Regions from separate parts of the Homo sapiens genome. Here region 2 is linked to region 1. The links come from fine-mapping of genetic effects on gene expression. A gene starts in region 1. The other region holds a variant in brackets. All regions are shown on one strand. Distances are between the middles of the regions.

Region 1 (11,973 bases):
AGGAACAGCCCTGTGGGAGTCACACGGGAAGGAACTATAGGAAGGGTGTTTGCGAATAAGTCACCAGCAAAAGCAAGCCAAAACTGATGACAGTCCATGCACACTGTGTAAAATGTACCGGTGAACATCTAGCATGGCGGGACCGTCATTTTTCTCTTGCAAACACATTCTCTTATAAACAGGAAAACCCAACACTGATGAATTAAAGGTTATCCAAGTATAAAAGCCATCTAAAACAGACACAGCATTAAATGCAGTTTCTCCCTAATGACAGGGACTGCCTGCTTAAATTTAGTATCTCTTCACACCTTTACCAAAAGTTTAACTAGGACTTTCTTTGTAGCCAGGAGCCACCTAGGAAGTGTGCCCCCTTCCTTCCAACTTACGTGGGGTATCCTCGCACCCCCTGGGCGGAGCACACGTCGGAGTGGGCCGTGCAGTCCACTTTAGCCACATAGACTTTGGCATCTTCCATGCTGTTGTATTTGTCTCCCAGGTCATTCCAAGTCGGCTGCAGCCGCTGGCAGTGTCCACACCTGGAACAAGGCAAGAGTACAAGCACATTGAGTATCAGGTCACAGGGCAGCTGGCCCACAACTTCAGCTCTGTCCAGGGGACAATGGGGCTCTCAGTCCTTTCTTTACACCATTGCAGATGGCAGCTCCTGGACCAGTACTCCAGGACCTCTCTCCCCTGCTCCCATCCCTCCAGAGTCACTGCCCTGTTCTCAGCATGAAATCTTGGCCTTGTTCCAGTATTAAACTTAGCAAAGTGTTGTTCTGGATCCTAGTTGTTCTGGCCCTGCTGACCTCCCGCTTGACTTCTATCCCAGAGTCCACCCTCCTTCCCTTGTGGCCTACTCCTGAGCCCTACTGCAGCATCTGCAGTGTTCCCAAAGGACTATAGCTTGGCTTGGCCCTGGGACACATTCTCTCTGACACTTCGTCCCTAAACTCCACCTAGCTAAATCTATCTGCCCTTCAGGTTTAGTTTGGGTGTCACTTCCTCTAGCAAGTTGGCCCTGACTCCCCGGGCTGTTCAGCACCCATTCTCTTCTCCTGCCCTTCTGGAAAGCCTCTCTACTCCTCCCTTGGACAGTAGCTTAGCACTTCCTGCTGTATCTGCTACTTTTATTCGTCAAGTCTCCTCCACTATATAACCAAATGGCTACAAACATAAGGCAATCTCAAAATTTAATCACCTGCAATTTTCTCCAATGAGAAGGGGAAAAAAAAAGTTTGTGGCCACCTATACTTCTAGGGTTGAAGTAAGCAAATGTCTATTCTTAGTATTCATTGTATGAATTCAGTTATGTATAAATATTTTAAAATCACCCATCATTTAAAATAGTATCTTAACTAGGCTTCTTGCCATGCTTCACATTTCATGAGGATATCAGCATCTTTCCCAACACTAGACCTTAAGTCATACAGCTGACCACAGCTCTTGCTGTGTTCTCTGGACAGTATGTCTACAGTGCCATACTCGAATTTTGAATGAGACAACCCTAGAAACTTTATCCCAGGTTTCAACTACAATCCCATAGCATTATGACACATGGGTTTGTTTGCTATTTAATATGGCAGGAACACACTGATGCCTACAATGTAACCACTTTGCTGTATCGCTTTTTAAAATGCTTTTTTTTTAAACACACTTGCTTATATGAACACTCAACGCTTAGAATTGTGACTTCTTCCTCAAAATAATTTAATAATCTGTTAAATCTCCTTTTATTTTCTGACAGATTACCTCAAAAATAAGCATTTAAGTCGGTAGCAGTGGCTCATGCCTGTAATCCCAGCACTTTGGGAGGCCAAGGCAGGAGAGCTGCTTGAGCCCAGGGGTTCAAGACTGGCCTGGGCAACACAGTGAGACCCCCATCTACAAAAAATTTTAAAAAATTAGCCTGGTGTGGTGGCACACACCTGCAGTCCTAGCTACCTGGGAGGCTGAGGCAGAGGGATCACTTGAGGCCAGAAGTTTGAGGCTGCAGCGAGCTATGATCACACCACTGCACTCCAGCCTGGGTGACAGAGATTTTGTCTCTTAAGAAAAAAAGGATTTAAGCCGGGTGTGGTGGCTCACACCTATAATCCCAGCACTTTGGGAAGCCGAAGCAAGCGGATCACAAGGTCAGGAGTTCGAGACCAGCCTGACCAACAAGGTGAAGCCCCATCTCTACTAAAAATACAAAAATTAGCTGGGCATGGTGGCACACGCCTGTAATCTCAGCTACTCAGGAGGCTGAGGCAGGAGAATCGCTTGAACCCGGGAGGCGGAGGTTGCAGTGAGCCGAGACCATGCTATTGCACTCCAGCCTGGGCGATAGAGCAAGACTCCATCTCAAAAAAAAAAAAAAAAAAAAAAGAAAAACAGACTTAAAGGTAGCACTGAAAAAGTCTGCTTCAAGTTAATGTGTCTTCCCTAAACAGCACTTTCTTGGCCAGCTAAGAGAATCCCTGCTTTATGAGATACTCAGATACAAAAAAAAAAGCACAATGAAACTATACATGCAGATTTAACTTCTGTAGATTCAACAAAGTGAGTTTATGTGGCGGGGGAGAAGGAAACAAGAAAAAAAAAAAGGCAATTCCCACAGAACCCTGAAGTGTGTGCAAGCTGGGAGATGTGAGGTTTTTGTTCCTCAGCAGGCCTTGGTTCCTACATGCTTCTCATGGCATGAGCATCTCTCCGACTACATTAAGTGTGACCCTGCTGTCTAAAGGCACAGGTTTGAGAACTAGTCCATTTGGTGTTTAACCAAAGAAGCCATGATAGTTCTAATGCTGGAGGAAACGCTGGCAGTGGGGACTGACTGACTGACTGGGGCGGTGTCCAACAAGGCACCTTCCTAAGGGACTGTCAAGGGCAGTTCTGACCTTCAGGGGACTTTGATCAGATATGCTCATTCTGGAACTTTAGAACTCCTCTGCAATCTTGACAAGGTTTTGTTTTGCTACTGCTTTTTTTTTCCCTTTTTTTTTTTTGAGAAAACACAAGATTAGATTAAGAATGAGAATAAACAATAAATAAGTTTGTGGTGCGCTAAATCAAAACTGACCATTCTGGGCCATCACCAAGTTGGGCGTGCCCTTGCTCCTGGCTGTGATGGGGCCACAGGTGCTATCTAGTCGGCCCTGCGGCTACAGCACCCAACTCTGAGACAGGCAGCTGCACTCAGAAGGTAGCCTGTGGCCAAGAAGTAGAGCAAAGCTACCTGGTCCAAATCTTGACCTCACTGTCACCAGGTTCAGGGTGACTCACAAACTGGCCATACAGAAGTTGTGACCTGATGTTGGCAAAAAATCTACAGCAGCAGGATAACCCTGCAGAAGCCAAGTGCAGGGCAAAAATACACAGATTGATGTTTTTGTTACAGGGGCCCCAGCCCCTTAATCACACGTGGGCTTTCACCACTCCACGGCAGCTGAAACTGGAAAAAGGTATGTGTGTGTTGAGGGGGAGTCCACTGAGTCTTCTATCTGAGCTCCAAACGCTCAGCTCACCACTCCAGGACCTCCTTCCCTCTCCTGCATAGACCCCTCCAGAGTCACCACCTTGCTCTCAGCCTTACAACTTACCAAAGTGTTGTGCCAGGTATTGTTGGTCCTACTTGATCTTGCCCCTGCTGACCTCCCATTTGACTCGCCGCCCACTCAGCCTCCTTTCCTGGCAGCCTATTCGTGAGCCCTACTGCAGTATCTGCAGTTTTCTGAAAGGGCCCTCTTAAAAGTCCAACTTAAACACCATCATAGAAACCCACATATCTCTGTTTAAGTATTTGTAGTAGACTATCAAGAAGTCAACAAATATGCCAGGTGCGGTGGCTTACGCCTGTAATCCCAGCACTTTGGGAGGAAGAGGCGGGCAGAACACGAGGTCAAGAGATCGAGACAATCCTGGCCAACATGGTGAAACCCCATCTCTACTAAAAATACAAAAATTAGCTGGGCGTGGTGGCACGCACCTGTAGTCCCAGCTTCTCAGGAGGCTGAGGCAGGAGAATCGCTTAAACCCAGGAGGTGGAGGTTGCAGTAAATCAAGATTGCGCTACTGCACTCCAGCCTGGCAACAGAGCAAGACTCCATCTCAAAAAAAAAAAAAAAAAAAAAAAGTAACAACATAAAGCTAATTATTCTGGAAGCATCCAGCTAAATGTCTACAAGCCACATATAATGGAAAAGGAATTTACTTAATACCAAGTGCCCAGATGTGCCAGTTTTCTCTCACTCAGCCCAGGACTAGCTGGTATTTATTGCAAAGATTCTAAACTTAAAATTCCTTTGGCACTGTGGGGACTTATTACATCTGCATGTCAGTTTTTCTTTAAAAAAAAAAAAAAAGTAAAGAATGGGATGCGATGGCTCATGCCTGTAATCTCAGTACTTTGGGAGGCCAGGGCAGAAGTACTGATTGAGGCCAGGAGTTTGAGACCAGCCCCGGCAACATAGCGAGACCCTGTTTCTACCAACTACAACAAAAACAACAACAACAAAATAAGCTGGGTGTGATGACCTGCGCCTGTAGTCACAGCTACTTCAGAGGCTGAGGCAGGAGAATCACTTGAGCCCAGGAGTTAGAGGCTACAGTGAGCTGCGGCTGCGTACCACTGGTTTCAGGCTGGGTAACAGAGCAAGATCCCATCTCTAAAATAAATAAATAATGAAGAAAGAAAAAAGAAAACCCATCGACAGATGTATTCCACTGAAATAGGCTCCAATTAAGTAGTACACTTAATTGAAATAGTTGCTGAGAATACTCCCGAACAAAGAGAAACTGTTAATACTGCCTGATTGTTTTATGTTACAAAGTAATTTCTAAACCATTGGAGTTGTAAAAATTCGAGTCAGTTGGTTCTTAGGAATGTGAAACATAATGTACTTCATATACACATTGTTAATAAACCCACAGTGGCCCTAAAAGTTGATTTAACTCCAAATGAACTGAAACGCAGTAATAGCCTGAATACAAGGTTAAGAGAAAAACGTTTCTCCCAGTTTGAAAGGTACAATTTCTGAACTGGCCATTTTTCTTAGGGTACCTTTTCTCTATGCCTCCCTACATCCCTTTCCCAAGTGAGCCTCTACTGAGCTCTGGGGAAGAATACCAAGTTCTGCAACAAGAACCTGCAGGCTATTCCAACCTCTCAAAGGTCTTGTGTCCTAAAATTATGGCTTTCTGCTCTGGCCTGTGGTCACTTCCCTTCCTCGGGGCATCCCGGCACTGGCAGGAAAGCTGTGCACATGCTTGTGTGAATGACAGGAAGCTCTTCCGTGGGATGAGTGCCAGGGTAGGGTCTCTCAGGTCAGCAGCGAGGCCCACACCAAAGCCTCGCCCAGAGAACCAAAGCAAGAGGGACCATCTGCTCAACGGAGGGGCTTTTCCGATCTCACACATAACAAGTGACCTGGACCCGAGAGAGCAGCAGGGAGGTGACAGGACAGCCTGGAGTTGAGGACCAGTGGGCTCCGTTCAGAGATTACATCCACCCTGAGCTGCAGGGGGGCGGAGGGGTTCCAGAATTCGCACTACCTTGGTCTTCCCGGGGTAGCTCAGCAACCCTCCTCTGCCCGGACCACTCCTTCCTATCCCACAAAAGACGCACAAAGTGGGAAACCACACCTTCCTGGGTTCTATTTTTCAGTTAAAGCCTCTGGAAGGGGACGTGCCCGCAGTCTGTCCCAGCCGACCCCGGTGGCCGCGGCAGCAGCAAGGCCGCTCTGGTGAGTGCACGTGGCCCACGGGCAGGCCGCGCGTCCGGCCGGCACAGGAAGTTTGGGGCGCTGGGCAGGGACCGCGGGGTGACATTTGGACTCCCGGCTGCCCGAAAGGGCGACGACCCCACCTTCCCCTCCCTCGGTGCCGAGGTGCAAGAGGCGGTTGAATTCAGGAGCGCGGCGCAGGGCGGGCTTTTCCCGGCTGTCCCCTAGGGGTCCGCCCCCTCCTCCCGCACCGCCCCGGCCGCCGAGCGCCACGTCAGCCGCCAGTGCCCGGCCCGCTGAGCTCACGCCTCCCGACCCGGAGCCCCAAGCCCTCGGTCCCCTGCAGTCCCCGGCTCCCGGCCCCGAGCCGCGGCGCCCGCGCCCCCCGCTCCCCGCCAGCCGGAGCCCCGAACCCGCAGGGTCCCCGCGCTCCCGGCCCCGCGCCCCCAGTATTACACCCCGCACCCCTGAGCCCCGAGCCCCGCGCCCGTAGCACGCACGCCGCAGACCAGAGCCGTCGGCGTCCACGTGGCCCCGGGACCCCCCGCCCGCGGCGCCCAAGCGCCCCACGCCCCGCGAAGCGCCAAGTGCGGGGCAGGGCGCCGGCCTGCGCGGCGTTACCAGGGCGCGAAGAACATGACGAAGTGCGCGGCGCTCTGGATCCCGTGCGTGAACATGTCGGCCGTGTACAGGTGCTTGCTGTGCGGGTCCTGTCCGTCCTCGCCGTCTGCCGCGGGGGGCCCGTCCGCCGCCGCCGCCGCCGCCTCCTGGGCCCGGGCGCCCCAGCGCCCGCCGCCGCCATGGCCCAGCAGCAGCAGCAGCAGCGCAGTCAGGGCCGCCGGCCGGGCCAGCAGCGGGAGGAGGCGTCCTGGGCGCGCGGGCATCGCGGCGGGGCTGGGCGCGCTCTCGCCGCGGCCTCCGGTCCCCTCGCAGCGCCCGCCCCGCGCCCCGCCCCGGAGAGGCCGCGCCCCTTCCTCTCCCCGCCCGCCCGCGCCGGCGCGCGACCGCTACCCGCCCGAGCCCCGGCTCCGCGCACCGGCAGGGAAGGGCTGGAGCGAGGGACCGAGTCTGGGAGAGCCTTCCGAGTCCGGCCTCCTGCCTTCCCGCCATGGGACGGCTCGCCCCAATCCCGCGAGGCTCCTGCGCCTCCGCAACCCAGGCCCGCACCCCTTTCCCCAGGGGCCCGCTCTGCTCAGAGCGGCGGTGAACACACGAAGTAACGATGAGGCCAGCGGGAAGCCACGGAGGGGCAGGTCAGCCTCGGCTAATCTCAGCTCACACAAGCACCCCGCGATTTCAGGCCAAAGGAAGGAGAGAGCTGCTGTCAGCAGAATATAGGAAATCGGGCAAAAGACGGTGGGGTTTGCACCTGAATTAGTTAGATTCTTGGCCAGAGCTCAACTGTGATTCTCGACCTGGGCTCAGAGGGGTGATGAAACCCGCTTCCCAAGTGAACCCCTTGCTGGTTACCCCTGCCCGGCCTCAACTCAGGGATGAAGAGGAAAGAAAGTCAAAGCGGCCTCTTCTAGACAAGAAGGCACCTAGCAGGACTGACTGGGGTCCTACTGTGCCCTCATTTATGCCGGTTACTAAAATGAATGACAGCACGCCTGCTATGGCTGAACTCAGCCTGTGGAATGGCCCGAAGGCATCCCTGCCCAGCGACTCATAACTCGCACCTGCACACACACCTTACAGCAGATGGTAATCGAAAGCTCCAGCCCTACCCCGGGGATCTGAAGCTAAATTAGAATCACCGGGTTGCTCTCCGGGATCCTGCCTGCTCTTTGATTATCCTCAATCCAGGAAGCCCCAGGTAGTTAACTCCTGGCTTGGCAACAGGGGACGCGCCCACTGTCTCACCTGTCATTATTCTGCTCCCGCCTTAGGCCCAGCCACTTATGAACCTTTAACCATGGGTTGCCAAACACCAAAACCATCAATCTCCCTCCAAAGTCTGTTCTTCCAGCCACTTAAGCTTGAAACATGGGAGGCATCTTGTATTGCTCGCTCTTTTCCCGTGTGTCTCAAAATTCAACCGCATTTCCTGTAACCATGATTTCCTTCCAGCATTCTCAGTGTTCATACCCTGAACGGAGACTAAGCCTGGCCTATTGCAGTAGCTTTCTAAGAGTCTCTTTCATTCACATGGCTGGAAAATTAATTTTCCTAAAGCCTGCCTTTGACCAAGACAGTTTGCTGCTTAAACTTGGACCAAAACGCCACCACTGTCCCCATGGCCTTGGCCGATGGGGTGAAATAGTCATGCCTGGGGCAGCCATTCAAGGCCTTCCGTGATGTGGTTGCATCATGCTTTGTGTCCCTGTGAAACTCACTCAACACTAGAAATCCAGGGATTCTCTCCAATAACTGTTATTGCCAAACTCTAATCCCTGTGTTCTCCAACACCTCAAACCTCCCAAACCCTTCCACGGTGCTGTTGGGAAATTCCCACAAGCATCGCCATACACTCTTACAGCATCAGTGTCTTTCGTTTTTAACTGAAACACAGTTCTAGGAGCTCTCTCAAGTGTTGGCTGCTCATTCTTTCACACCTGGAGTCCCTCAGAGCCAGGAAGTAAAGCTGATGCCTTCCTGGTTCCCCATTGCTCCTTCCAAATCCTACAAAACCTTCAGTACTCCTTAAATTGATGCCACTGGGCATGGCACCCTCTTCCCTGCCAGTTCCTGTCATTCTTCCACATCACTCTTCCTGGTTCAGTGAAGACTTTGGTTCCTGGCTCACAGTGTTCCTGGCCACCCCTTTCCTGTCTTTCATTCCTGGCATCTTCAGCATCCAGGTGGATGCTCCATCTACCTTTCCCTCAGTAACTCACACCCAAAAGGGAGACCCTAGCACTTGTCATCACCAGCATCTGCACCATCTCCAAAATCTGAAGGCATCCACTCTGCCCAGCACCTCCTCGACTGTTTGCTCAAGAAACCCATTTCTGCAATGCTTCTTTCTCATCATGACCTCTGAGCTACCCACCCCACCATCTTCTACAATCCCCTCGCAGCCCAACAGACTGCTATGTCTTCTCTTGCCTCTTGGCCAAGTTACAGCCCATGGAGTCTCACCCTTCACTTCCTGCCCTGCCACATTCTCCCCACAGATGCTGGTGAGCTTTGTCTCTCTGGGTTCCCTGTGCCTTCAACCAGGTAGCCAGACTCTGCTGGAGAAAAATCGCACAGTCAAGCCGCATGTCTCCTTCACACTGGTAAAAATAAGCCTTAAATTCCTCCTCACCCCTGCCCTAAAACTGACTACCTCTGCCTAGGCAGTGTGCTGCCCCACTCTCTGAGATGCTTCCATACTTCCACTGACACTGCTCCTCCTCTCCTCTCCCCACCCCACCCTGTCAGTCGCCATCCTCTCAGCTGCCAGCTTTATCTCATGTTTCTGAGAAAAATGAAGCCAAAAGCATGAGCTCCCTTATCCCTCCCCCGCCAAATCTACACACCCCTGCACAGGCGCCTTTCCCTCTGCCCACAAAGGAGCAAGTCAGTATATCCCTGCCTAGCAAAGCCCAGTCCTCCAGAATAATGCCCCTCACGGATAACCAGGTCCTAATTCCTGAAACATCTGATTGTTTCTTTATATGGCAGAAGGCTTTGCAGGTGTGATTAAATTAAGGGTCGTGAGCTGGAGAGATTACCCTGGATTATCTCGGTGGGTCCTAAATGTGATCACAAGTGTCCTCATAACAGAGGGGCAGTAGGAAATTTGACTACACAGCCGGAGGCGACGTAACAAAAGCAGAAAGAGATTTGAAGATGTTAAACTGCTGGTTTGGAAGATGAAGGGGCCAAGAGCCAGGAAAAGCAGCTCTAGATGCTGGAAAAAGCAAGGAAATAGACTCCCCCTCAGAGCCTCTGGAGGGACCTGCAGTCCTGTGGACAATTTATAGTCCAGTGCAACTGGTTTTGGACTTCTGACCTCCAAAACTGTAAGAGAATAAACGTACGTGGTTTTATGCCACCAAGAGTGTGGTGTTACAGCAGCCCTAGGAATCTCATATGCCCTCCCTGCTCCCTGCTCAAAGGCTTTGTTCTTCAGCTCCTCTCTTTCTCTCCTGCACAAGTTACTCATCACTCCTTCCTACTGGACCATTTTCATCAGTGTATAAGCAAAAAAAAAAAAAAAATTATCTGTATTTCACTTTCCATTCATCCTTCAGCTCATGCCACTCTGACTCTCAAACCTGCCACACACCAAGTCTTCTCAAAGTCACTGAAGATGTCCACATTGACAAGTCAAATGAACACTTTATGTTCCTCATCTTCCTGGGCTTCTCAGCAGCGTTGGTACAACTGCCATTGGCCCCATCTGCATCCACCGTCCTTTCTGCTTCTCTGATCTACCTCCTACCATCCCCACGTCACTCCTCAGTCTCTTCAACCCAACCTTTGATGTCAGTTTTCAGCGCTCAGCCTCCAACCCACTTTTGTTTCTCTGCATCACTCCCTAGGTGATCTCATCCATAGCCATGGCTTTAACACCATCTATATGCTGCTGCCAAAGTGTACATTTGCAGCCGAGGCCTCTCTCTGAGCTCTCACTATCTACAGGATGCCTCCTCTTGTTTGTCCTGCAGGTGTGCTGAAGCTGACCTTGTGCTTCCCTGCAGCAATCTGCTTGTCCTCCGATTTCCCCTCCTCAGTAAATAGTTCTTCCTCGCTGTTGCACAAACCAGAAACCTGAGTTGCAAACTTTGTCTCAGACTCCTGGCCTCAAGTGATCTGCCTGCCTCAGGCTCCCAGAGTGCTGGGATTACAGGTGTGAGCCACCACCCCCGACCTCTGAGTTGTAAACTTTGTTACCCTTTTTCTTTATTGCAGTGCCTTGATCCCCGCCTCCTACTCGATCTCCCCATCAGCAAGTCCAATCATTGCCATCTCTGAGCCACAGCTCCCACTGACTGATATCTCTCCACTGCTGCCATATCCTTCTCTTCCTGTCTGCTACAGTAGCCTCCTGAATGTTGTTTCCACTCTTAAGTCCTTCCCATCCATCCTTCATCCAGCAGCTAGAATTGAATCGTGTCACTCCTTTGCTTAACTTCCTTCAGGGGCTTCCCTTCACATACAGTCAAATTCCAGCTCTTTGCCTTGGCTTGCAAGGGCCTTCAGGAAAGATGCAATCTCAACCCATACCACTCTGCCCTCTGCTCGCCTAGATTCTAGCCATTAGGGATGATTCTAGATACCCTCCCAGCATTCCCCTTCTCAGGCCCTTGTGTGTGGTGCCCTGTGCTTGTTCCCTTCCTGTCTTCTGTGACTGGACTCCCTGCACCCTCAGGTCTCTTGCCCCCACGCCACCTCCTCAGTGCCTGGCGATTGCCTTTCCACATTGACAAGTCAAAGCCCCTCTCTGCAGCAGCCTCCCTCTGCCCACTGAGCTCTCACCAGTGCCATGCTGTTTAATTTCTGCATAACACTTTTTGTCATTTGATGCCATTTTGTTGCAGACTTAGCTGGTTAAGGTGGCCGTCTTCTCCATCAATAAGCTCCCCGAAGGCCAGGGGCTATTTGCCACATTCACTTCTCTCTCCCTAGCACCCAAATGCCTGGATACAGTTGAGGCTCAACAAGTGTTGGATGAAGGAACCCCTCTTTCTAACCACATCTCTTTCCCAGGCTCCACCAAAACAAACTGACTCACTGTGCCTGGCACCTTCTCTCACATGCGGCCTTTCCTGCATGACCCGGCCACCCCTCCACACAGGCTGCTCAGCGTCACTTCCTCTGAACTCCCAGCCCTCCCAAGGGACTGACATGTTGCTTCATATGGTAGCAGCCACACATGGTCCTGCTTAGATTCCCATCGCCAAGCAGCGTGGCTTCCAGCTCAGAAAGCCTAAAAGTGAAGATACAACTGAATTTGTGTACAGCGATGAAATAATACAATGTTCTCAGTAAAAAATTCCCTGACCTCCAGCTGGGGTTAGGCTTCCTGCACTAATATCTTGTCCTTTCTCCCCATATCCCTTCACAGAAGGGTAATTATTTGGTTGTGTGAATTTTGTTTAGCCTCGGACTTTCCCTCTAAACTGTAAGCCCCATGGCCTGAGAGGTGTTTACGTGATGTCTGGTACACAGCAGGCATTTAATACCTGATATGGTTTGGCTGTGTCCCCACCCAAATTTCATCTTGAATTGTAACTCCCACAATTCCCATGTGTTGTGGGAGGAACCCGGTGGGAGGTGATTGAATCATGGGGACAAGGTCTTTCCTGCACTGTTCTCATGATAGTGAATGAGTCTC
Region 2 (11,973 bases), 32 kb after region 1:
ACAACGGTTTTTTTTCCCTTCCTTTTCTCTTAAACTATATGAACCTTCCAAATTGCACATTCTAAACCTGAAAATTTAGAATTTTTATTATTTTTGCATTGTAGAGTATATGGACTGTAAACTGGACACTGCCTTCACAATTAATCTATTTGTAAATTTATTTGCTTTAAATTAAGAAGTTTGAGCAAACTTTAATACCTTCACTAACCAGTGAAAGACTCCACAGTCCCTATTGTATTTTATTTAATAAATAGCTGATTTAGAAATATCCTACCACTTATTATATGTACACTAATTCAGAGTAAATTAACACCTGTCTCTGAAAAAAGGCAACTTCTCAGTGCTTGACATTCAAATGTCTAAAGATGCATCAGTTTATTCCTTTTTACTTCCGAAGGATACTGCATCACTCAACACATCTATTTCACTTAATGCACATATCCAAACTTTCTTTGTTTGAGTCAAAATTTCTGGTACCAAAGACAATAAAATTAATTTCAAAGTTACTTATAAACAGAATCTCTTATGAAAAACTTACAAAAATATTTTTAAAAATTTAACAAGTATATTTTCTCTTCTTCTCTCTTTGCTGTTTAGTGAAGTTATAACTCCATAGAAATAAAAATCTTTTTTTAGAGAATTTTAGTCCATATTTCTTTTTTTCTTTTTCTTTCTTTCTTTCTTTCTTTTTTTTTTTTTTTGAGACAGAGTTTCTCTCTTGTTGCCCAGGCTAGAGTACAATGGTGCAGTCTCGGCTCACTGCAACCTCTGCCTCCTGGGTTCAAGTGATTCTCCTGCCTTAGCCTCCCAAATAGCTGGTATTCCAGGTGCCCACCACCACGCCCAACTAATTTTTGTATTTTTAGTAGAGACAGATTTCCATCAGCTGGCCAGGCTGGTCTCAAACTCCTGACCTCAGATGATCCGCCACTGGTCTCCTGAAGTCCTAGGATTACAGGTATGAGCCACCGCACCCAGCCTTTATTCCATATTTCATCTCCTGTGGCTATGTCTTTGTTATCTTCTTTATCTTCTCTTTTTAATCCATATGTGTAAACATAAAAGGTTAAGAAACTTTAACAACTGATTGCATTCAGGTAACAAAATCAATGTAATATCCTAAGTCTTCAGACTTACTAATAATGGGAGAACTGTGAAGCCAAGTTCATAAAAAATCAGGTCTTGGATACCTAGTATTTACTCAGTTGTGCCTCCTTGCTCAGTGTTTAAACACAGAAGAATCTACAGCCTCACACACCTAGGTCAGACATAATATAAAATATACCACATGCATTTAATGATGGACAAACCTCAGTGATGTAAGTATAATTTTTCTGCTCAATTAAAAAAACTCTCTGCAATTTTTCATAAACATAAATGTGATTTTTGTTGCTCCAGCCAAACCCTGACACCCACAGCAGCAACCTCCCTTTTGTATCAAAGGAAGAGTCGTGGGGTTCTGAGGTGTGTTGTGTTGCTATGTTCAGCCGAGCAGCTCCAGGGACCCCACCAGAAAGAGCTACTCGTCGGCAGTGGTAGCAGCTACCACTGCTCACATCTGTGTCACTGAGGCTGGAGTCTGGAATTTCTGAGTTACAGGGCTGTCTCTGCCAAAGACTTGCTGGCAAAGTTTTTTGTCTGCAAAATAGACACAATAATGAGGACCTCATAAGGACTTTAAGAAGTGCCCTACACCCTGGAAACTTCTGTTGGCAGAAGTGAAGGGAGAAATTAACTCTTCCCCTAGGAAAAAAAATTTTCCATAGCAGTTCTAAACTTTGTCCCTTGTGTAGGACGATAAGCAGTTTTTAAATGCAAATAAGGCTAGTGATGGAATTTTACAGTCGAGCTCTAAAGACAAACCCAAATGGTGTCATCCTTGATATTCTTTTTTTTTTTTTTTAATTGAGACAGAGTCTCACTCTGTTGCCCAGGCTGGAGTGCAGTGGTGCAATCCCGGCTCACTGCAACCTCCGCCTCCCAGGTTCAAGAAATTCTTCTGCCTCAGCTTCCAGAGTAGCTGGAATTACAGGTGCGCACCACCACACCAGGCTAATTTTTTTATTTTTAGTAGAGACGGGGTTTCAACATGTTGGCCAGGCTGGTCTGGAACTCAAATGATCCGCTGGCCTCAGCCTCCCAAAGTTGCTGGATTACAGGCCTGAGCCACGCACCTGGCCCGAGATTCTCGAGTGGTCCTTCCTAGTCACACCATGGCAATCCTGTCCGGTGAGGCCAAAAGCGTGCCTGAGTTTAGCTGCAGGAGACACGGACTCTGAAGATGCTCTCTGTTATGGGCTATGTTGTGCCCCTCCCAAATTCAAAAGTAGAAGTCCTAACCCCCAGGACCTCAGGTTTTCTACAGAGATAATTAAGTTAAAGGGAGACAATTAGGGTGGGTGGGTCCTCAGCCAGTATGACTGGTGTCCTTACAAGTAGGGGATTAGGACACAGAATCACAGGGGGAAGACCACATGGGGACATGGGGAGAAGATGTCATCTACAAGCCAAGGAGAGAGGCCTCAGGAGAAACCAACCCTGGTGTTTGAGCTACCCAGTCTCGCGTACTTTGTTATGGCAGCCCCAGCAAAGTAAACCACCTCCAAATCTTCCCTCACTTGGCAATACCGAGCCTCCGAATATCCTTCCATTTTGGAAGGAGACGTGAATCCCAGGAATGAATCATTGCTGGCTCCAACTAGATGGCTTCTGCCTAGGGATACACGGCTCTTTGAAGGAGGCGCCTTTTTTTGTTGTTGTTGTTTGAGACGGAGTCTCACTCTGTCCCCCAGGCTGGAGTGCAGTGGCACGGAGGCACCTTTTTTCTGCTGTCCTGGTGAACTTCCTCTTTTTATTCCCCTCTCTGCACTTTTTTAACACAACACAAGACAAGACCGAGGAGCTAAGAGAGCTCCAGCACTGTCCTGCTGTCCAGAAGGAGAACAACCTGAAGTCCTGAACTGCTCAGAACTCTCTGCCGGTGACTCTCCAGTATGTGTCTCAGAGGTCCAAGTGACACACTTTTTACACAAAGTATAGTAAAGCCATTTCTGGTAGCCACCAACTAGGCACATTCTGTGAGTTAGGCAGTTTTTGCCATTTGTAGAATAAAGGAAGTAAACCTTCCTTTGGTTCACATTTTAATCCACAGTCAGTCATGTCAGCCTTTCCTGTTCATCTAGGAAACATCTTGTCAGCTGACACTTATTCCAACATCAGGAAGCTTCTTCTGCTTTGCACTGTGAGCTGACAGTATCTGCTTATTATATACTGTTGTTACATTTATTTGATGGGATGCTTCTCCAGATGTGGAATTATTCATTGTCAAAGGTGCTCAGCCTTGCAGATCTTGATAGTGGTTATAGTAAATGTTGTCTTCAGATTGGGAAATAATCACTTGGTCCCCCATAGTTATCAGCTGGTGATATAAGTGCCCCCCAGCCTTGTGGACTAAGGGGAATTTGCATGGCAGGCCGGCGTTTGCTCCATGGGCTGTCAGGAGCACTTCTACCCAAGCTCACACTGGGCCTCCACGCAGGAACAAGACTCCTGACAGGGGCTCTACTGACAGGGCCCAGTCACAGCACCCACGCCTGATCTCTCAGGGCCTCCGGAGCTCCTGAACTTCTCTCTGACTCACTTGCAGCAGCAACAATTTTGACATTATATTTTTGATATTACTTTTAAACAAGCAAACCAATTAGAATGTGCTTTGAGGATTTACTAAGCTCACAGCAAAATCTGTTTTGTTTTCACAGCTGTGCTCACACGCTTGAATGATGCCATTTCGAGGGAGATAGCATGATGTAATGTTGACGACAGCACAATTGTCATCCTGCTAAAGAGTATTGTGAACTCAATGGAAACGAAAAGTGAGGCTTTCATCTGTAAGCTTAGATCCCATTTATGGCAATCATCTCAACCTCTGCGCAGGGCTCACAGTGGAAATTACTACAAGCTGCCGAACACAGATGACATCATCTTGCCACCCACAAATGTTATGGGTTTGACAGCCCAGAAGATGGCATCCCCTGGGAGGAATACAGCTCTAACTAAGTTGACAAGTTTTGTGTGTTTGAGAGGAAATAGTTTCATAAAAGTTGTTCTCCTCTCCGTTTTCTCTTTGGGTTTGGCAACTGCCACTACAATGAAATTATGGTCACGACAAGGAGCCATTAGCTTTCCCCAGAGCCATGAGCCACAGCTCCCTCTGCGTGGAACGATGTGAGTTTGCAGCCCTTTCCTGTTAGAGCTTTCACAACTTGGAGCTCTGGAGGCTGAGATTTAAACCAGTGCCTATGCTATTGTGCTGTTACTCCTTTGCACTTCTCTCTGCTGTACTGCTAATCACCAGGGCTTTTCAGTTAGGCCACCAGAGCTCACGCATGCCACACAGCTACTGAAGTTGTCATGGATCATAAAGACAGTGTTTCCTGACTGCTAATTCTGCAACTGCTCTCCTGTGTTTGATGGAAGGCTGGACATTTTTTTTTTTTAATGCTCAAATTATCTTCCATTAAAGGACACACACCTTCTTTACATGACCTGGAGCTGTTTCTACCTGCAGCTCTGGAGTCACGGTCATCCCAGATATGCTATTATATCCATATTATGGAACCATGGCTTTCTAGTAATCATAAAAGTGGAAATAAAAGAAAAAGAGGCAGATTCCACAGAAAACAAAAAGAAAAAAGAAGAAAGAGAGAGAGAAAGAAAATGAGAGAGAAGAAAAAAGAAACGAAGAGAAAGAATGAAAGAAAGAAGAAAGAGAAAGAAGAAAGAAAGAAAGAAAGAAAGAAAGAAAGAAAGAGAGAGAGAGAGAAAGAAAGAAAGAAAGAAAGAAAGAATGAACGGAAGGAAGGAAGGAAGGGGCGGCGGGCAATAATAGAAGCACTAAAGTCATAAGCCACCCTGGATATAAATAAGGCACCAAGAGATAAAAAAAAAAATTATCTGGTCTCTTATTTATTAAATCTCAGCACTTGGTCTGGCCAAAATAGGGTTAGTGGAAAAACTGGTTTTAATTACATTTTAATCATCAGTGTCTTTCTTCACTATCCACAACTCTATTGGTGGCTTTAAGACCAATGTATTTCAATATCAACCACCCCCCAAAATGGGGCTTAGGGGCAACTGGCATTTCTGAACCCCCGCACTAAGTCTTCTCTGCCACAGCGCCACCTCTGGTAAGGAAGACTATCGACTCGCCATAGTTTGGAATGAC[TGGGC/T]GGGCGCTGTTCCCCCAATCTTTACACCTTCAGTGTGTCTCATCACCCTGGGGAATATTTGGGGAATGCTGAATCCACAGGATCCCTTACTGCTCACAGAAAGAGTGTCAACAACACAATGTACTATTTAGAAAGAAAAAGGACTGAAAATATTGAGCCTTTAAACAATCTTCTCTCCCTCCTTGCTGCATGCAGAATGGATTCCGTCACCTTCCGGGCCCGGCCCTGGGCTCTCACCCATCTTTGTGATCTGATTATCATCCTGTTACAGCAGTGAACTCAATATACCTTGTGTTAAATTAAAATAGAAGTGTTTTCCCCACTACAATGCAAATTCCTTGGGAGCAGCAATCACCACTTGCTAGTCTTTATATTCCCATACAAAGAAACTTAGTCCATTTTCTGTTGCTTATAACAGAATACCTGAAACTGGGTAATTTATAGAGAAAGGGAATTTATTTCTTACAGTTATAAAAGCTGAGAAGTCTAAGGTCAAGGTGCTGCATCTGGTGAGGGCCTTCTTGCTGGTGGGGACTCTCTGCAGAATCCCGAGGCAACACAAGTCATCATGTAGTGAGGGGGCTGAGTGTGCTAGCTTACATCTCTCTTCTTCTGATAAAGCCATCAGTACCGCTCCTATGACAACCCAATTAGTCTATTAACCCACTGATCCATTAATCCATGAATGGATTAACCCATTTATGAGGGCAGAGCCCTCATGACCCAATAACCTCTTAAAGGCCCCACCTCTCAGTACTGCCACCTTAGAGATTAAGTTTCAACGTAATCTCAATAGAAGAGACAAACATGCAAACCATAGCAGAACCTGCTCAGTAAATGTTTGTTGTACTGAATTATGCTCTCGAAAATATTACCAGATCTGAGGCTCATAGATTTAGCCTGAATAAATCTACTGGCTCATAAATTTACCCTGAATAAAACTACTAGAGCATGTGTTTTATTCATGAACTTAATATCCATATTCAGGTACGCACCATTCCTTATATAAAATCTGGTATATCAGAATTTTAAGATTTTCAAAAGTTAGTTCCTGTATATTACATAGCATGTTAACACTGTGTACATTTACAAAAAGTGTAAGTACAGAAATAAAAACTAGCCTCACATTAGCGAAGATTATGTTTTATGATCAAATAAGCTTGCTGAAAATGTATGAAAAAAAGTCTTTGCTTTCAAAACTTTTTGGATTTCAGAATAATGAAGAATTGTGGAACTACAGCGGAAGAAAAAATGAGTTACTTCTTTTACATTAAACTTCTATAACTGATTTAATCTTCCTTAAAAAACATCCTATTTTATTTCTGTACACTTTCATTTTAAAATTACAAGTAATCTATTAAAACATGCTCATTACTTAAAATTCTACCAATGGAGATAAAGCAAAGTCCTCTTAGATGGCCCCCCTTCTCACCTCAATTTTCTTTCCACAGGAATCCCTTGGCCTCCTGGTTGCTCCACAGGCACTCATCAAGGCACGGAGCAACACCTTGTGTTTATAAAGTCCCCTCGCAAAGCACCCTCACCTCATCTTCCCCCATGACCTGTCCTCACTGCATTCCTTGGAGGTCTATAAAGCAAATTGTGTTATTCTCCATGTTGAGAGATGAGAAAAATTAGAGTTAAGCACATCAAGATTCTTGCTTCCTGTGATAGTGCTAACAAGTGGAAAAGAAGGAAATAGAACCCAAATATTCTGACCTTCAGCATTCTTTATGTTTTCTGTCATCACAACCCCAAATTCTGCTATCATGTGTATTCCCAATACCATGTCTGCAGCCAGGGGTCATTGGTGTATAAACAACTTTTCATCTAAAAGGGTGATATGGGTTGGCTCTGTGTCCCCACCCAAATCTCATCTTGTAGCTCCCATAATTCCCACATGTTGTGGGAGAGACCCAGTGGGAGATGATCGAATCATGGAGGTGGGTTTTTCCCATGCTGCTCTCTTGATAGTGAACGGGTCTCATAAGATCTGATGGTTTTAAAAACAGGAGTTTCTCTGCACAAGCTTGCTCTTTGCCTGCTGCCATCCACATAAGATGTGACTTTGCTCCTCCTCACCTTCCACCATGATTGTGAGGCTTCCCCAGCCACGTGGAACTGTGAGTCCAATTAAACCTCTTTTTTTTTTATTATTATACTTTAAGTTTTAGGGTACATGTGCACAACGTGCAGGTTTGTTACATATGAATACATGTGCCATGTTGGTGTGCTGCATCCATTAACTCATCATTTACATTAGGTATATCTCCTAATGCTATCCCTCCCCCTTCCCCCACCCCACAACAGGCCCCGGTGTGTGATGTTCTCCTTCCTGTGTCCAAGTGTTCTCATTGTTCAATTCCCACCTATAAGTGAGAACATGTGGTGTTTGGTTTTTCGTCCTTGCGATAGTTTGCTGAGAATGATGGTTTCCAGCTTCATCCATGTCCCTATAAAGGACATGAACTCACCATTTTTTATGGCTGCATAGTATTCCATGGTGTATATGTGCCACATTTTCTTAATCCAGTCTATCATTGTTGGACATTTGGGTTGGTTCCAAGTCTTTGCTATTGTGAATAGTGCCACAATAAACATACATGTGCATGTGTCTTTATAGCAGCATGATTTATAATCCTTTGGGTATATACTCAGTAATGGGATGGCTGGGTCAAATGGTATTTCTAGTTCTAGATCCCTGAGGAATCACCACACTGACTTCCACAATGGTTGAACTAGTTTACAGTCCCACCAACAGTGTAAAAGTGTTCCTATTTCTCCACATCCTCTCCAGCACCTGTTGTTTCCTGACTTTTTAATGATCACCATTCTAACTGGTGTGAGATGGTATCTCATTGTGGTTTTGATTTGCATTTCTCTGATGGCCAGTGATGATGAGCATTTTTTCATGTGTCTTTTGGCTTCATAAATGTCTTCTTTTGAGAAGTGTCTGTTCATATCCTTCACCCACTTTTTGATGGGGTTGTTTTTTTTCTTGTGAATTTGTTTGAGTTCTTTGTAGATTCTGGATATTAGCCCTTTGTCAGATGAGTAGATTGCAAAAATTTTCTCCCATTCTGTAGGTTGCCTGTTCACTCTGATGGTAGTTTCTTTTGCCGTGCAGAAGCTCTTTAGTTTAATTAGATCCCATTTGTCAATTTTGGATTTTGTTGCCATTGCTTTTGGTATTTCAGACATGAAGTCCTTGCTCACACCTATGTCCTGAATGGTATTGCCTAGGTTTTCTTCTAGGGTTTTTATGGTTTTAGATCTAACATTTAAGTCTTTAATCCATCTTGAATTAATTTTTGTATAAGGTGTAAGGAAGGGATCCAGTTTCAGCTTTCTATATATGGCTAGCCAGTTTTCCCAGCACCATTTATTAAATAGGGAATCCTTTCCCCATTTCTTGTTTTTGTCAGGTTTGTCAAAGATCAGATGGTTGTAGATATGTGGCATTATTTCTGAGGGCTCCGTTCTGTTCCATTGGTCTATATATCTGTTTTGGTACCAGTACCATGCTGTTTTGGTTACTGCAGCCTTGTAGTATAGTTTTAAGTCAGGTAGCGTGATGCCTCCAGCTTTGTTCTTTTGGCTTAGGATTGACTTGGTAATGCAGACTCTTTTTTAGTTCTTTAAAGTAGTTTTTTTCCAATTCTGTGAAGAAAGTCATTGGTAGCTTGATGGGGATGGCATTGAATCTATAAATTACCTTGGGCAGTATGGCCATTTTCATGATATTGATTCTTCCTACCCATGAGCATGGAATGTTCTTCCATTTGTTTATATCCTCTTTTATTTCCTTGAGCAGTGGTTTGTAGTTCTCCTTGAAGAGGTCCTTCACATCCCTTGTAAGTTGGATTCCTAGGTATTTTATTCTCTTTGAAGCAATTGTGAATGGGAGTTCACTCATAATTTGGCTCTCTGTTTGTCTGTTATTGGTGTATAAGAATGCTTGTGAATTTTGCACATTGATTTTTGTATCCTGAGACTTTGCTGAAGTTGCTTATCAGCTTAAGGAGATTTTGGGCTGAGACAATGGGGTTTTCTAGATATACAATCTTGTCATCTGCAAACAGGGACAAATTGACTTCCTCATTTCCTAATTGAATACCCTTTATTTCCTTCTCCTGCCTGATTGCCCTGGCCAGAACTTCCAACACTATGTTGAATAGGAGTGGTGAGAGAGGGCATCCCTGTCTTGTGCCAGTTTTCAAAGGGAATGCTTCCAGTTTTTGCCCATTCAGTATGATATTGGCTGTGGGTTTGTCATAGATAGCTCTTATTATTTTGAGATGTGTCCCATCAATACCTAGTTTATTGAGAGTTTTTAGCATGAAGGGCTGTTGAATTTTGTCAAAGGCCTTTTCTGCATCTATTGAGATAATCATGTGGTTTTTGTCATTGGTTCTGTCTATATGCTGGATTACGTTTATTGATTTGTGTATGTTGAACCAGCCTTGCATCCCAGGGATAAAGGCCACTTGATCATGGTGGATAAGCTTTTTGATGTGCTGCTGGATTCGGTTTGCCAGTATTTTATTGAGGATTTTTGCATCGATGTTCATCAGGGATATTGGTATAAAATTCTCTTTTTTTGTTGTGTCTCTGCCAGGCTTTGGTATCAGGATGATGCTGGCCTCATGAAATGAGTTAGGGAGGATTCCCTCTTTTTCTATTGATTGGAATAGTTTCAGAAGGAATGGTACCAGCTCCTCCTTGTACCTCTGGTAGAATTCGGCTGTGAATCCATCTGGTCCTGGACTTTTTTTGGTTGGTAAGCTATTAATTATTGCCTCAATTGCAGAGCCTGTTATTGGTCTATTCAGAGATTCAACTTCTTCCTGGTTTAGTCTTGGGAGGGTGTATGTTTCAAAGAATTTATCCATTTCTTCTAGATTTTCAAGTTCATTTGCATAGAAGTGTTTATAGTATTCTCTGATGGTAGTTTGTATTTCTGTGGGATCGGTGGTGATATCCCCTTTATCATTTTTTTATTGCGTCTATTTGATTCTTCTCTCTTTTCTTCTTTATTAGTCTTGCTAGCAGTCTATCAATTTTGTTAATCTTTTCAAAAAACCAGCTCCTGGATTCATTGATTTTTTCAAGGGTTTTTTGTGTCTCTATTTCCTTCAGTTCTTCTCTGATCTTAGTTATTTCTTGCCTTCTGCTAGCTTTTGAATGTGATTGCTCTTGCTTCCCTAGTTCTTTTAATTGTGATGTTACGGTGTCGATTTTAGATCTTTCTTGCTTTCTCTTGTGGGCATTTAGTGCTATATATTTCCCTCTACACACTGCTTTAAATGTGTCCCAGAGATTCTGGTATGTTGTGTCTTTGCTCTCGTTGGTTTCAAAGAACATCTTTATTTCTGCCTTCATTTTGTTATGTACCCAGTAGTCATTCAGGGGCAGGTTGCTCAGTCTCCATGTAGTTGAATGGTTTTGAGTGAGTTTCTTAATCCTGAGTTCTAGTTTAATTGCACTGTGGTCTGAGAGACAGTTTGTTATAATTTCTGTTCTTTTACATTTGCTGAGGAGTGCTTTACTTCCAACTATGTGGTCAATTTTGGAATAAGTGCAGTGTGGTGCTGAGAAGAATGTGTATTCTGTTGATTTGGGGTGGAGAGTTCCGTAGATGTCTATTAGGTCTGCTTGGTGCAGAGCTGAGTTCAATTCCTGGATATCCTTGTGAATTTTCTGTCTCATCGATCTGTCTAATGTTGACAGTGGGGTGTTAAAGTCTCCCATTATTATTGTGTGGGAGTCTAATTCTCTTTGTAGGTCTCTAAGGACTTGTTTTATGAATCTCGGTGCTCCTGTATTGGGTGCATATATATTTAGGATAGTTAGCTCTTCTTGTTGAATTGATCCCTTTACCATTATGTAATGGCCTTCTTTGTCTCTTTTGATCTTTGTTGGTTGAAAGTCTGTTTTATCAGAGACTAGGATTGCAACCCCTGTCTTTTTTCGTTTTCCATTTTCTTGGTAGATCTTCCTCCATCCCTTTATTTTGAGCCTACGTGTGTCTCTGCACGTGAGATGGGTTTCCTGAATACAGCACACTGATGGGTCTTGACTCTTTATCCAATTTGCCAGTCTGTGTCTTTTAATTGGAGCATTTAGCCCATTTACATTTAAGGTTAATATTGTTATGTGTGAATTTGATCCTGTCATTATGATGTTAGCTGGTTATTTTGCTCGTTAGTTGATGCAGTTTCTTCCTAGCCTTGATGGTCTTTACAATTTGGCATGTTTTTGCAGTGGCTGGTACCAGTTGTTCCTTTCCATGTTTAGTGCTTCCTTCAGGAGCTCTTGTAGGGCAGGCCTGGTGGTGACAAAATGTCTCAGCATTTGCTTGTCTGTAAAGGATTTTATTTCTCCTTCACTTATGAAGCTTAGTTTGGCTGGATATGAAATTCTGGGTTGAAAATTCTTTTCTTTAAGAATGTTGAATATTGGCCCCCACTCTCTTCTGGCTTGTAGAGTTTCTGCCAAGAGATCAGCTGTTAGTCTGATGGGCTTCCTTTTGTGGGTAACCTGACCTTTCTCTCTGGCTGCCCTTAACATTTTTTCCTTCATTTCAACTTTGGTGAATCTGACAATTATGTGTCTTGGAGTTGCTCTTCTCGAGGAGTATCTTTGTGGCATTCTCTGTATTTCCTGAATTTGAATGTTGCCCTGCGTTGCTAGATTGGGGAAGTTCTCCTGGATAATATCCTGCAGAGTGTTTTCCAACTTGGGT

The links. PIP is the estimated chance that this variant, and not a neighbour inherited with it, causes the effect.
Region 2: its variant is fine-mapped to the expression of TXNDC5 in whole blood (TOPMed, PIP above 0.99).

What each region holds. Positions count from the first base shown.
Region 1 is chr6:7,904,188-7,916,160 of GRCh38, forward strand. It overlaps TXNDC5 (thioredoxin domain containing 5), which reads right to left and starts at 6,601. Exons shown (of 10, transcript NM_030810.5): 1 at 6,327-6,601; 2 at 387-536. The coding sequence starts at 6,589. It overlaps BLOC1S5-TXNDC5 (BLOC1S5-TXNDC5 readthrough (NMD candidate)), which reads right to left. Exons shown (of 13, transcript NR_037616.1): 5 at 387-536. RefSeq lists silencers at 5,676-5,765, 5,966-6,085, 6,456-6,885 and an enhancer at 8,726-8,875.
Region 2 is chr6:7,935,815-7,947,787 of GRCh38, forward strand. The region is part of intron 4 of BLOC1S5-TXNDC5 (BLOC1S5-TXNDC5 readthrough (NMD candidate)); the gene reads right to left. Among named protein-coding and RNA genes, the nearest start is that of TXNDC5, 31 kb to the left of the region's middle. RefSeq lists an enhancer at 3,050-3,119. The variant TGGGC/T (reference allele first, on the strand shown) is at 5,225.